3 separate regions of the Homo sapiens genome follow, and all the other regions are linked to region 3. Evidence: fine-mapped expression QTL. A gene starts in region 3. Each other region holds a variant in brackets. All regions are shown on one strand. Distances are between the middles of the regions.

Region 1 (4,149 bases), 45 kb before region 3:
CTGAGGTCCACTGATGAGTCACATGGGGTGGCGGAGGGGCAGCTGCCTTCTCTCTCTCCCACAACACTCATTCCCCAGAGACGCAGAGGCCAGGTGGATCCAAGAGACCACTTAAAGACTGACATTAGGGAGGCTGCTGAGTAAACATGGAAGGACGCCTGCACCAGCCACCAGCTGCGGACGCTGGGCATAACTGAGGCCGCACAGAGGCCAGCAATACAAAGTCCTTGGAGCTTGGAGACCGTTAGGGGCCTAATCCACTTTTTTTCCCCTTTTCTTTTTTTTGAGACAGTGTCTCACTGTCTCCCAGCCTGGAGTGCAGTAGCATGATCTTAACTCACTGCAGCCTTGAACTCCTGGCCTCAAGTGATCTTCCTGCCTCAGCCTCCTGAGTAGCTGGAACCAAAGGCAGTTGCCACCATGTCCAGCTAATTACAAACTTTTTTTTGGTAGAGAAAGGGTCTTGCTATGTTGCCCCTGGTCTCCAACTCCCAGCCTCAAGCAATGCTCCCGCCTCCACCTCCTAAAGTGCTGGGATTATAGGTGAGGCTCCACGCTGGGCCCTATGTTTAACAATCATAGCTCACTGCAGCCTTGAGCTCCTGAGCCAAGTGACCCTACCATCTCAGCCTCCTGAGTAGCAGAGACTACAGGCGTGGGCCACCACCATGCCCAGCTTTTTTTTTTTTTTTTTTTTTTTTTTTTTTTTTTTGAGACGGAGTCTTGCTCTGTCGCCCAGGCAGGAGTGCAGTGGCATGATCTCGGCTCACTGCAACCTCCGCCTCCTGGGTTCACCATTGTCCTGCCTCAGCCTCCTGAGTAGCTGGGACTACAGGCGCCCGCCACCACGCCCGGCTAATTTTTTGTATTTTTAATAGAGATGGGGTTTCACCGTGTTAGGCAGAATGGTCTCGATCTCCTGACCTCGTGATCTGCCCTCCTCGGCCTCCCAAAGTGTTGGGATTACCAGTGTGAGCCACCGCGCCTGGCCGATTTTCTATTTTTTTAAGAGATGAGGGTCTCACTATGTTTCCCAGGCTGGTCTTGAACCCCTGAGCTTAAGAGATCCTCCCACCTTGGCCTCCTGAAGTACTGGGATTACAGGCATCAGCCACCGCACCTGGACTCCACTCACTTCTGAACAAAGAGTGGAGGCTCAGAGAGGAGCACAGGTTGCCCCAGGCTCCAGATTTTGGGTGGGTGGGGGGGGGGGTCCCAGGCTATGGTCAGTGGCCCTTCTGCTACCCCGGATGAGCCACGTGTCTTCGTGTTCTGGCCCCTGTGTAGCCCCCTCCCCTTGAATTGGGACAGGCTCCAGATCCTGCTTTACCAGTAGAATGTGGCAGAAGTGGCGGGGTGTCACTTCTGGGCAGTAAGGAAGCCTGGCAGCTTCCCAGGAGGTCAGTGGCCCCGTAAGGAGTCTACCCTGGGACTGTGGTATGGTGCAAAACCAGCCTAGCCTGAGGAAGCCATGGAAGGAAGGAGCCAAGCCCATGGCCACTGCTGAGCTCACTGTGGGCAGCCCTGTGGGTAGGGCCATCTTTCACACAGGTCCTCCAGCCCCGCCAGCCTGCCTGGCTAATACCACATGGAGTCCCTGCTGACTCCTGTCCCAGCTGGAATTGGAAGCAAACAGAATGGCCCCTGCTTAGGCTGTGAAGCTTTAAGACAGTCTGTTACTCCGGCAGGCACGGTGGCTCATGCCTGTAATCCCAGCACTTTGGGAGGCCGAGGTGGGCAGATCACGAGGTCAGGAGATCGAGACCATCCTGGCTAACACGGTGAAACCCCATCTCTACTAAAAATACAAAAAAAATTAGCCAGGCATGGTGGCGGGCCCCTGTAGTCCCAGCTACTCCAGAGGCTGAGGCGGGAGAATGGTGTGAACCCGGGAGGCGGAGCTTGCAGTGAGCCGAGATCACGCCACTGGACGCCAGTTTGGGGGAGAGAGCAGGTTCCGTTTCAAAAAAAAAAAAAAAAAAAAAAAAAAAAAAAAAGACAGTCTGTAACTCAGCCACAGACAGCTGTAGCCAGGATCTTACCCGAGAGGACATCTGCTGCAGCCACATGCTGGCCCCAAAGAAAACTGGCCCTAAATTGGCCTCTAGACAGTCCCTCCCGCAAAACCTCCCAAAGCCTTTTTGAGAAGCACTCCAACAGACTGAGAGGCAAAAAAGCCACAATCATGGCACGCTGGGGTGGGAGTCGATGTGGAGAAAGCAGCACTTGGCCTGAGCAAGCGGACGCTCATGAAAATACACATTGACCTCAGCCGGACGCGGTGGCTCATGCCTGTAATCCCAGCACTTTGGGAGGCCGAGGCGGGCGGATCACGCGGTCAGGAGATCGAGACCATCCTGGCTAACATGGTGAAACCCCGTCTCTACTAAAAATACAAAAAAATAGCCGGGCATGGTGGCAGGCGCCTGTTGTACCAGCTACTC[G/A]GGAGGCTGAGACAGGAGAATGGCGTGAACCCGGGAGGCCAAGCTGGCAGTGAGCCAAGATCTCACTCTGTTACCCAGGCTGGAGTGCAAACAGAATGAGATTCCATCTCAAAAAAAAAAAAAAAAAAGAAAATACACTGACCATCCCTGGGCACGCCCCTTACCCCGTGAGTCCCTGAACGCCGGTGGGCTAGGAATGGAAGACCAGGAGTCTGTCTCCGTCCTGAAAGTATGAAGGACCCCTACCCTATAGGAGATCCTTGGGTGGTGTGTGCAGGGAGCGGGGAGACCCAAGGCTGCCTCGGGCTCCACCCCTGAGCAGGCCTGGGGCAGAGCCAGCTCCGTTCAGGGCTGGCCTCCGTGCTATGTCCAGGTGCATCCTGTGTGTGTCCTACCTCTCCCTGGGTCCCACACTCCCTTTCTGCCCCCCAGTGGAGCACGAGCGTTTGTGTCCCAGCTCTGCGGTCCGGTGGGGCTATGGTGAGAGGCCTGGAGCAGTGGCAGTCCTGCCTGGCCTCACTGAAGCAGGGCCTGAGGAGCCGCAGCCCCACCTGGGCAAGTTACTAACTGGTCACACGATTGACCAAGGGCCCCAAAGAGTTACCCTCTTAACCGCAAGCTGACTCATCAGCAAAGGTGCAACTGTCCTTGCTGGAGTAACCAAGACTGTGTCTCCCCAGCAGACGCTCCCGTGGGCAAGCTCAGCGGGTTAATCTGGTTTCACTCACCCCATGGCTTTGGACATGGGTCCAGCGCGCCCAGCTGCCTGGCCTCCCAGGGCACCAGCGTCCACCCCTACTCCATCTTGCAGATGCTTCAGACCCTCTCCTGGGAGGACCCTCGGCAAGTTGCATGTCTCCCGGCCACTGGATGAGGTCAAAGGCACAGGAATGGTGTAACAGAGCAGCCACGCAGGCTTCAGAGTGGCCCAGGCCTGGGCCCAACACTCACAAACTGTGGCTCCTTGGTAACTCCCAGCCCCCGAGCCAGTTCTCCTCATCTCTAAGAGGAACAATATCATCCCTTGAGGGTGACCAGAAGTTTCCATGAGAGGCTGACGGAAGCACCAGGTCTGTGCTGGGTGGGCACGCACCTCAGGCTCCACAGCAGGGTGCACCAAATCACCCTTGGAGCCGCCTGCCTGGACTGGGCCCCAGCTCAAGGCCTACAGCCAGGGAGATGCCCAGACAGGGCAGCTGCTGGGGACCTTCCAGTGAAAAAAGGACCTAATGTGCTTCTCAACTCTAGAACCTCTTCCCCAGTTTCACATTCTTTTTCTGGAGTCTCGCTCTGTCACCAGGCTGGAGTGCAATGGCGCCATCTCAGCTCACTGTAACCTCCGCCTCCTGGGTTCAAGCTCTCCTGCCTCAGGCTCCCGAGTAGCTGGGGCTACACGTGCACACCACCACGCCCGGCTAATTTTTGTATTTTAGTAGAGATGAGGTTTCACCATGTTGGCCAGGCTGGTCTCGATCTGACCTCGTGATCCGCCCACTTCGGCCTCCCAAAGTGCTAGAATTACAGGCGTGAGCCACCGTGCCTGGCCAAAGGTCCTCATTCTCTGACAGGGTTAATCACACAAAACCACTGTCCCCTTTATCTGGAAGCCATCCTTGGGCCTTGCCAGTGACAAGTAGCTCGAGGCCAACTTCAGCTACAGGGTGAGGCCCGAGGTGCAGCCAGGCGGGTGCGGGAAACAGGATGT
Region 2 (4,149 bases), 40 kb before region 3:
CCCCCAGGCTGCCCACCCCTCATCAGCCCCTCATGGAGGAGTGGGGGCCACTCCTCACCCCCCAGGCTTCTTTGGGCTGGTTCTGGAAGGGGACGGGCCATTCCCTTTATTGCGCCCCCTTGTTCCGAGGCTCCTGTGCCTTTACGGTCAAGTGTGTCCATAATACTTGCGTTCCTCCCTTGCAGGAGAAAGTCCCCTCCAGCTTTCCAGGAAGGAGCTGCAAGAACAGGCAGCGGAGTGGGAGAGGCCCAGTGAGGGCAGGCCCCTCCCAGTGAATGCAGCCACACTGGGTCAGCCCTGGGGACGGTGCATGCGCAGGGGGGCAGGGCCAGGGCAGCAGGCAGAGGTTTCCAGAAGCAGGGAGGGGAGCTGAAGAGCCTGTGGGAAAGAGAAGAGCAGGGCAGGGTGAAGGCCCGGCGGAGACACTCTGCCCACCCCACACCCTGCCTATGGGCCACACAGCTGGGCCTGGGTGCTCCAGGAGCATGAGCCCTTCTCCAGGCCATGGTGTCTGCCTGCAGCCACTAGGCGCCTCTCGGTCCCCACACAAATAAAGGCACTGATGGATCCAAAGTCGGGTGCACAGCCCAGTTGCCATGGAGCCTGCTGTGTTAGCTTGGCACAAGTCACCAAACCTCTGGGCTGTGCTGGTGCATAAGGTGGTGGACTCTGCAGTCCCCACGGCCCCTTCCGGCTCTGCCGTTCTCTGTGCCCATCCAGGGCCTTCCACTTTTGTGGCTGGAGGCACCAAGCTCCCATACCTTTGTGTCTGCTGTGGCGTACCTGCCACGGATGGGCATGCTCTGCGCATGCCCACGATGTTCTGTTCCCGAGCCCGTGTAGCACCGGGCCTGCAGCTGGGGCAGGCCGACGAGCCCAGTTAGATGGCTGGCAGCTCCTTGCAGAAAACAGAAGGGGTCAGATGGACAGGAAGGCGGGCTCTGCGGGCGGCCGAAGGGTGGGGCCTGGTGGCGGCTGCCCAGCCGACATCACATGGTCCGGCTGTACTCGATGCCACTCTTGGAAGAGATGCCCGACCATGGCAGGAAGCTGCAGAGCAGGCTGTGGGCCTGGCGGTAGACTCTGTGCGGAATGGAGCAGGGGCTCAGGCTGGCTAGTGCAGAGCCCAGGTGCTGGATGTAGTCCGTGGGGCTCTGTTAAGGAAGATTCCGACTTGCCCTGACCACGCTCGCCAGGGCACAGTCATCAGGGGCCCGCGCAGTGGCCTGTGGGACTGTGTGCAGATGGCAAGCCAGGCTTCGGAGGCTGAGAGCCCGCTAAGCCTCTGCAGAGCTGGAAAGGCTCATGAGACGAAGTGGCCTCTGCTGTGCAAAACAACAGAGGGTGGGGTCTGGGGACAGAAGGGCCTTCTGAGTGAGGCAGCAGGCATGTGGACACCACACCCAGGGATGCACGGGGGGTGGGGAAGGGGCCTGGCAGAAGGGCAGGTGCTTCTGGTTCTCCCTAGATTCTCAACCTTTGTGGCAGCAAGAGGGACAGAGCCCTGTCCATATGACAAGGAGGGGGTCAACAGTGCTGACCCCCTGGATGCCTGTCTTCACATAAGCTAGACGGCCTGTGGAGTGTGGGGTCACCCCTCTCTTTCCTGCTTATTATTCTATGTAATGAATAAATCCTAGACTCATGAATTTGAAAACACACACACACACGCACAGCATTTTTTTGGGCCACATTCTGACTATTATAAAGTTTCCTGGCTTCCCTCTGACCTGTCAGGGGCCAGTGAAAGTTAAGGAGGAAGAAGCAGGGAAGGGCATACCTTTGGGTCATGCATCCTATAAGGAAGGTTTGAACCCAAGTATTCAAAAAAAGTAAAAATCTCTTCTCTCCGCACTTGTTTCCCCTCTGCTAGCACAGGCTCTGGGAGGACAGGGGATCCTGTCCGTTTTGTGCACTGCTGATCCCCAGTGCAAGTGGAGCAGGAGGCTCTCCAGCTGGGTGC[A/G]GGGCTCATGCCTATAATCCCAGTAATTTGGGAGGCTGCGGCAGGCGGATCATTTGAGCTTAGGAGTTCGAGACCAGCCTGGGCAACATGGTAATATGTGCAACTCGATTTACCCAAATGTGTGTCAGGTTTACCCACAACACGATCAGGTAAGGGAGAGAAGCATCCATAAGCTTGGCCACCTGAACATCATCTGAGGGGGACCACAGCTCCAACTTGCTCACTGGCTCTGCCACCTTATGGACAGGAAGCCACAGTCCCTCTCCCCCAGAAGTTAAGGATATAAAATCGTCCAGGGAGGGTGGCCGCCGTTGATGTAGAGGACATAGGTGAAGCCATCTTTGAGGACCCCTCGAATGGAGTAGTAATAGGGGAGATAGTGGTGCTGCTTGAAGTCTCTGTTTTCATAGAAGTTTATTGCTGTGTTGTTGGTGGTGAGGACATGCAGGTAAATGGCTTTGCAGTGGTCCTGGGCGGTGGTTGATATGTGATCCTTTAAACTTTCAAGTAAGAGGGAACCTTGGGGAGAAGAGGTAAAGGTAATGCAGGCAGAGCAGTTAGGAAGGAAGGATGACTGGGCTAGGATGGGGGCTTTGCATGAGTCTCTCGGAGATGTCTCGGCCCACCGTATCAGAGACCAGCCTTTCTTCACCACCACTGTCAAAGTCCCTAAAATCTCATGGCCAGATGGAGCCTGGTAGCTACAGACTGCTGGGAGGGACTGCAGAGGTGGCCTGGTAGCGCCCTCCCATGGGCTGGGCCCGCATGGAGACTCCCTTTCAGACAACAAACAGGGTAAATGTGAGCCCAGGAAAACATGGACTAGATGGGCCTGGGTTTAAAATTAATTAAGACTCTGCCGCTCACTGGCCGTGTGGCCGAGTGGGGTGGGACATCGGAGAAACGGTGAGTGTTGCTTCCTCGTGCGTGTTCACGCTTTCTACTCTGAATCGTGAGCAGTGAATACACGAGTTGTGCGTGTGGCGGCAGCAGAAGTGAGAGGTGCCAGTTTCCTCAGCTCCATCCTGGGGGCTGAGCGAGGCTGCAGCAGAAAGGCCTGGGGGCATGTGGAAAGAGGATGGCTGAAGGTGGTGGGTGTGCTGGCAGGGGAGGGATGATGAAGGTCTGGCCCAAGACGGGAACGAGGATGGAAGATGAGACTGAGGGATGTTCACGAGCCAGAGTTGTTGGGGCCAGGGAAGAGACTGGGTGCAGATGGGATGGGGGTGGGGTAGGGCAAGGGGGTGGGGTGGGCGCCAAGCCGCGGGCCCGGCTGCCCTTACCTATGCCGTGCTTCCTGAACTCTTTCACGACGCCCAGACTTAGGATGTACGCGACTTGTGTGTCAACAGAGAAGTTGGATGCTAGAATATCTCCATCCTAGAGGAAGAGTCAGAGAGAAAGTCAGGCTCACACGTCTGGTGCACGGCTCACTGCACAGCCCGGCCCAGGCGGGCTCCGCACCGACTTCCCACGACAGCCAGAGGGACACCGACTGGGAGGGGCAGAATCAAGAGGTACTGGAGAGGGGCCCCCACTCCCCAAGGAAATGAGAGCGTTTATGCCCTTCTGGTGAAAAACAGCTGAAAAGAAGAACACACACAAAAGGAGCTTCTCCTAGGGGTGTGTGGGAGGCCTAGCCAAGGACGGGAATGAGGCTCTGATGCCAGCACAAGGTAAAGTTATGGCATGAAGGCAGCAACTACACAGCACCACGCGGGCCTCATGGGAATGCACGCATGTCACCTGGTAGGCCTGGATGCAGGACAGTGGACAAATGCAAAGTTTTAGAGGTTCAGTTAAAGAATCGCACGCTGCCCCAGGTGATCTTGGAGGAGTGAGACTTGGGCGGCCGTCCAACCCCTTCTGCTGCCCCCACAGGCAGAGGACACCGCCACACCTGCGTAAAGCCACCCACCATCTCTTGGTTCTAGAGATGGAATTCCGGGTGGGAGTCATGAATCTGATCAGCATGAGGCTCTTATCATCTTCCAACTCGTAAAGAACAAGAAGGCCTTTCTGCTCCCACGTGCTGGGCTGGGGTCAGCCTGTCCAGGCTCCCTGCTCTCCCAGCCCTCTTCAAGCCACAGTTCACCCAGATATGTCAGTCCAGGGAGGAAGGCGTCCTTATCACTCTTGTTACTCCAGGCCTGCAGGAAGGGTGTCTGTTCCCCAGCTGACATCTC
Region 3 (4,149 bases):
AGACAGAAATGGAAAAACTTGCAAAAGATTGTCGTGGAAGGATTTTTAAATTTTGATGATTAAAACATGTTACTTGAACATATAGTGGGTATACAGTCAAGCATTTGTGATTTTTTACAAAATTGAGTTAGGGATATAATGTGGTCTAATTTTTCAATCTTGGTCTATCTTGGACTTTGTATGTCATCTCTTTATTTTCAGGAAGATAAAGCTTTCAAGCTTCCTCCTTCTTTGTCCACTTGTTTATAGTTTTGATGGCTCTTAGGAAAGATAGTCTAGGGAAGATTTTTTCCTCTCCCATTTCAGGTATATCCCTCTCTCTCTGGTAATCCACTGAGTTAATACCACATGCTTCATTTCAAAGCATTGGAAACTGTGTTTATTTCTTTGTAATTATGGCAACAGGATTTAAAGAAGAGAGCCACGGGAGTCTCTTGTTCTTGGTGAAAGAGCCACAAATCCAGATAAGGAGAATCTCAGACCACAATGAGACAGTGCTGATGTAAGAATAGCATTAAATAGGCGGGGCGCGGTGGCTCACGCTTGTAATCCCAGCACTTTGGGAAGCCGAGGTGGATCATGAGGTCACGAGATCGAGACCATCCTGGCCAACATGATGAAACCCCATCTCTACTAAAAATACAAAAAAAAAAAATTAGCCGGACGTGGTGGCGGGCACCTGTAGTCCCAGCTACTCAGGAGGCTTAGGCAGGAGAATCATTTGAACCCCGGAGGCAGAGGTTGCAGTGAGTCAGGATTGTGCCACTGCACCCCAGTCTGGCTACAGAGTGAGACTGTCTCAAAAAAAAAAAAAAAAAAGAGATAAGCACAAACCAAGAAGGGAAAGATGACTACGTGAACACCACAGTGACTCAACCATGAACATCTCCTTTACTTACACCTTCATATACAGGCTATTAGCTCTTCTTCAACATATATGCTTTGGACTGGTCTAGCCTGTAGGCAAGTTTGTTCTTACCATTCTTCCACCTGTCCTGGAAGCACCTTTACTGGGACTTCACAGCTACCTCTTTTGTGATCCATCCCCACAAGGTCTAGCTCTTAGTTAGCTGTCAAGAGATATCATTTGTGGCAGATACTGCTAGTTTCTTATCTAACTTATTTTCCACATCTCTTTTTTTCATTTGTAACAAAGCCCTAATTTTGTGCAGGTAGATTATCAAGGGAGGCTAGGTCCTTCCCCTAGTGACAGGGGCTGAAGCATGATGGGCCCCAAACAATTATTTATTCTTGGTAATAACTAGTTTAGGATGGGTACATGACACAATACATGTCTGTATATTTTACCTGGATTCTATTGTCAACGTTACCAACATGCTTAGGGTGGCAGAGAAGCACTGGGACCTTGATGTTGTCACTGGGCCACCGAATTAACCAACCTGTAACTGCTCTTTGAACATCCTTTCGGTGGGTTTTCTGTTACTTGTAGCTGAAACTATCCTATCAGATATTCCACAAAATCACATTACCTAAGTTGTCAAATCTCCTAATATTGTTTTAATAACCATGCAGCCATTCATTAAGCTTTTAGATACAGGAATGTGCCTGGCACTGGAATAAGGAAATATGTTGAGACTTTTCAGGCTTTTCTATCAAGGTACCTATCATTTTCGTCTTTTTTTTTCCCCAAACACCTTTATAAACTGGCAATTTCTTTCACTTACATTATCTTATAATCTTTGAAATTACCCTCTGAGTTAGCCCAGAGAGGCACTCTGAGCTGTTTGCAGCTGAGGAAAGCAAAGTTGTAAACTGGCCAAGATTACCAACCAATCAGTGGCAGAGCTTGGGGAGGAGCTCAATTTTCCAATTCCAAATGCCTACACCAGGGCACTCCCTCCTCCCCCAGCACACAATAGGAAATGACTGGCTCTAGGGTAGGCTGCATGTGAGGTATCCGGGGGCGAACAACGTCCTGCGACGCTAACCTATGGCTCTATTCTCGCGTGGGATCCTGTGACTAGGAAGCTGAAGCAGCTCGCTTAGGCTGCAGCTGCGGGTACAATACGTAATGCCTCTATAACACTTTGAGTCAGAGTCCAGCAACCTGGCCTACACCGATGTGAACGTTGTGAACGTACACAAAGATACTCCTTCATGTTCCACGGCCCCACCATCCGCTCAAGACACAAAGGACAGCTCAAGCCCAGGCTAGGCCCGAACCCCCGCCCTCTCAATCACCTTGCTCTGGCCAGACCGAAATTTCAGGCCTACAGGGCACTGTTGGCCGAACCCACATTTTGTTACCGATTTTCTTTCGAGTTCCGGTGTCTCCCAGTCTTCTTTCTGTCCTTCTTCTCGGAAACATTACGTCCCCCTGGGGTCACCCTAAGACTCTACTTCAGCAGGCAAACAGGCCCGGAGCTCACGGAGGAGACCCCGCCAGCGGAAGCGGAAATGGTTGCTTAGAGAAAAGGAGGAAAACTACCTCTCGCAGCTGCCCAGTGGCTACAGGTCCTCGGTTAAGGTGTTCAATTGGTCAACACAAAAGAAGGACTTCCCCTTCGGGAGAACTTCGACCAATCAAAGGGCAGGATGGCGGAGAGGGCTGAGGGCGGGTCGCTTCCGGCGGCTTTTCCCGCAGCTCCTGCGTAAAGGAGCATGAGAGCGTGGGAGTTTTGCAGTGGCCGTGGCGTTCTTCGTCGCGTCTCGGTCGGGCGTCGCTTTCTGCAGCTCCTGTCAGGGAGCGCGAGGCCTGTTATTAACCGCGGAGCGGTAAGTGGGCCCCTTTCGAGGCCGGGCCAAGAGGAGGAGCAGTCGGCGTAGGTTTTTAAGGGGGGGTTCGGAGGGAATCGAGGGAGGCTAGGGGTAGTGGAGGAACTTGGCAGCGGAATTGGTCCCTTTAAGAACTGTTCTCTCCCCCCGCAGCTTTGTCACGAAGTCCCTGTGGCGTCTTGAAGAAGGCATTCCCCACCCGCCAAATGGCGTCCATGCCCCCGACGCCCGAGGCCCAGGTGAGTCGAGGTACCTTTTTCGTCCAAGTTTATTGCTGCTTTCGGTCTCTGCCTGACCCCCTCCTTTGGAGGAGAGTTGGGCATGCCTGTTGTGGTAGGAGTGCTCCTGAGCCCCAAATAGCCCTTTGACCAAGTGTTCTTCGTTCCAAGACCACACACATAATGGTTTACCAACTTCCTTCTTTCAGAACTACCAACTGGGAGCAGGGACCTGTGGAGGAATCTCTGAGAGAGTTTCTCAATGTCTTATCTGTTTGTTTTGTTTTGTTTGGAGATAGGGTCTGGCCTTGTCGCTGGAGTGTTGCTTGTCTGGCTGGAGTGCAGTGCTGATATCATAGCTCCGTCTGGAACTCAGGGAATCCTTACGCCTCAGCCTCTCGAGTATCTGAGAGGCGCGCATACCACAGTGTCTGGCTACTTTTAAAAGTTCTTTTTTTTTTTTTTTTGATACAGAGTCTCGCTCTGTCGCCCAGGCTGGAGTGCAGTGGCGCGATCTCGGCTCACTGCAAGCTCCGCCTCCCGGGTTCATGCCATTCTCCTGCCTCAGCCTCCCGAGTAGATGGGACTACAGGCGCCTGCCGCCACGCCCTGCTAATTTTTTGTATTTTTAGTAGAGACGGGGTTTCACCGTGTTAGCCAGGATGGTCTCAATCTCCTGACCTTGTGATCCGCCCGCCTCGGTCTCCCAAAGTGCTGGAATTACAGGTGTGAGCCACTGCGCCCGGCCTAAAACTTCTTTATGGAGATGGAGTCTTGCTGCTTTGCCAAGGAACTCCTGGCCTTCAGCTATCCTCCCACCTCGGCTCCCCAAAGTGCTAGGATTAAAAGTGACTTTCTGGAATGGTTCCCAAAATTACAGATTTGGTACTTCTCCAATTTGAATGAATTTTTAAATTAAGCACATTTCTAGACTCCACACTCGTTGAGTAATAATAAATCCCAAGTGATTAATTTATCACACCGTTAGAGAAGGTGGGGTAGGCCTGGATGAAGTGCTGGAGTGAGCTTAGCAATGAGTGTCATGGGGACGAGAGGAAATAGCAAAGGGAAGGATGTTGGGAGAATCCTGTAACCTTTATCTCTTTATGATTCTTCCTGGGCTGCCCAACTTTCTCCTTTTCTTTTCTTTTTTTTTTTTTTTTTGAGACAGTCTCGCTGCGACGCCTAGGCTGGA

Evidence for each region. PIP is the estimated chance that this variant, and not a neighbour inherited with it, causes the effect.
Region 1: its variant is the best candidate, but not a certain one, in a credible set for the expression of NAA60 in atrial appendage (GTEx, PIP 0.64).
Region 2: its variant is the best candidate, but not a certain one, in a credible set for the expression of NAA60 in testis (GTEx, PIP 0.79).

The regions. Positions count from the first base shown.
Region 1 is chr16:3,486,961-3,491,109 of GRCh38, reverse strand. It overlaps a transcript of NAA60 not described here. Among named protein-coding and RNA genes, the nearest start is that of MIR6126, 3.6 kb to the right of the region's middle. RefSeq lists an enhancer at 2,727-3,021. The variant G/A (reference allele first, on the strand shown) is at 2,445.
Region 2 is chr16:3,481,696-3,485,844 of GRCh38, reverse strand. NAA60 (N-alpha-acetyltransferase 60, NatF catalytic subunit) reads right to left here. Exons shown (of 8, transcript NM_001083601.3): 5 at 3,247-3,343; 6 at 2,248-2,482; 7 at 784-1,146; 8 at 1-378. The coding sequence ends at 990. It overlaps MIR6126 (microRNA 6126), which reads left to right and starts at 376; the gene lies at 376-464. The variant A/G (reference allele first, on the strand shown) is at 1,964.
Region 3 is chr16:3,441,947-3,446,095 of GRCh38, reverse strand. It overlaps NAA60 (N-alpha-acetyltransferase 60, NatF catalytic subunit), which reads right to left and starts at 2,416. Exons shown (of 8, transcript NM_001083601.3): 1 at 2,259-2,416. ZNF597 (zinc finger protein 597) reads left to right here and starts at 2,592. Exons shown (of 4, transcript NM_152457.3): 1 at 2,592-2,736; 2 at 2,890-2,975. The coding sequence starts at 2,943. RefSeq lists an enhancer at 2,183-2,332.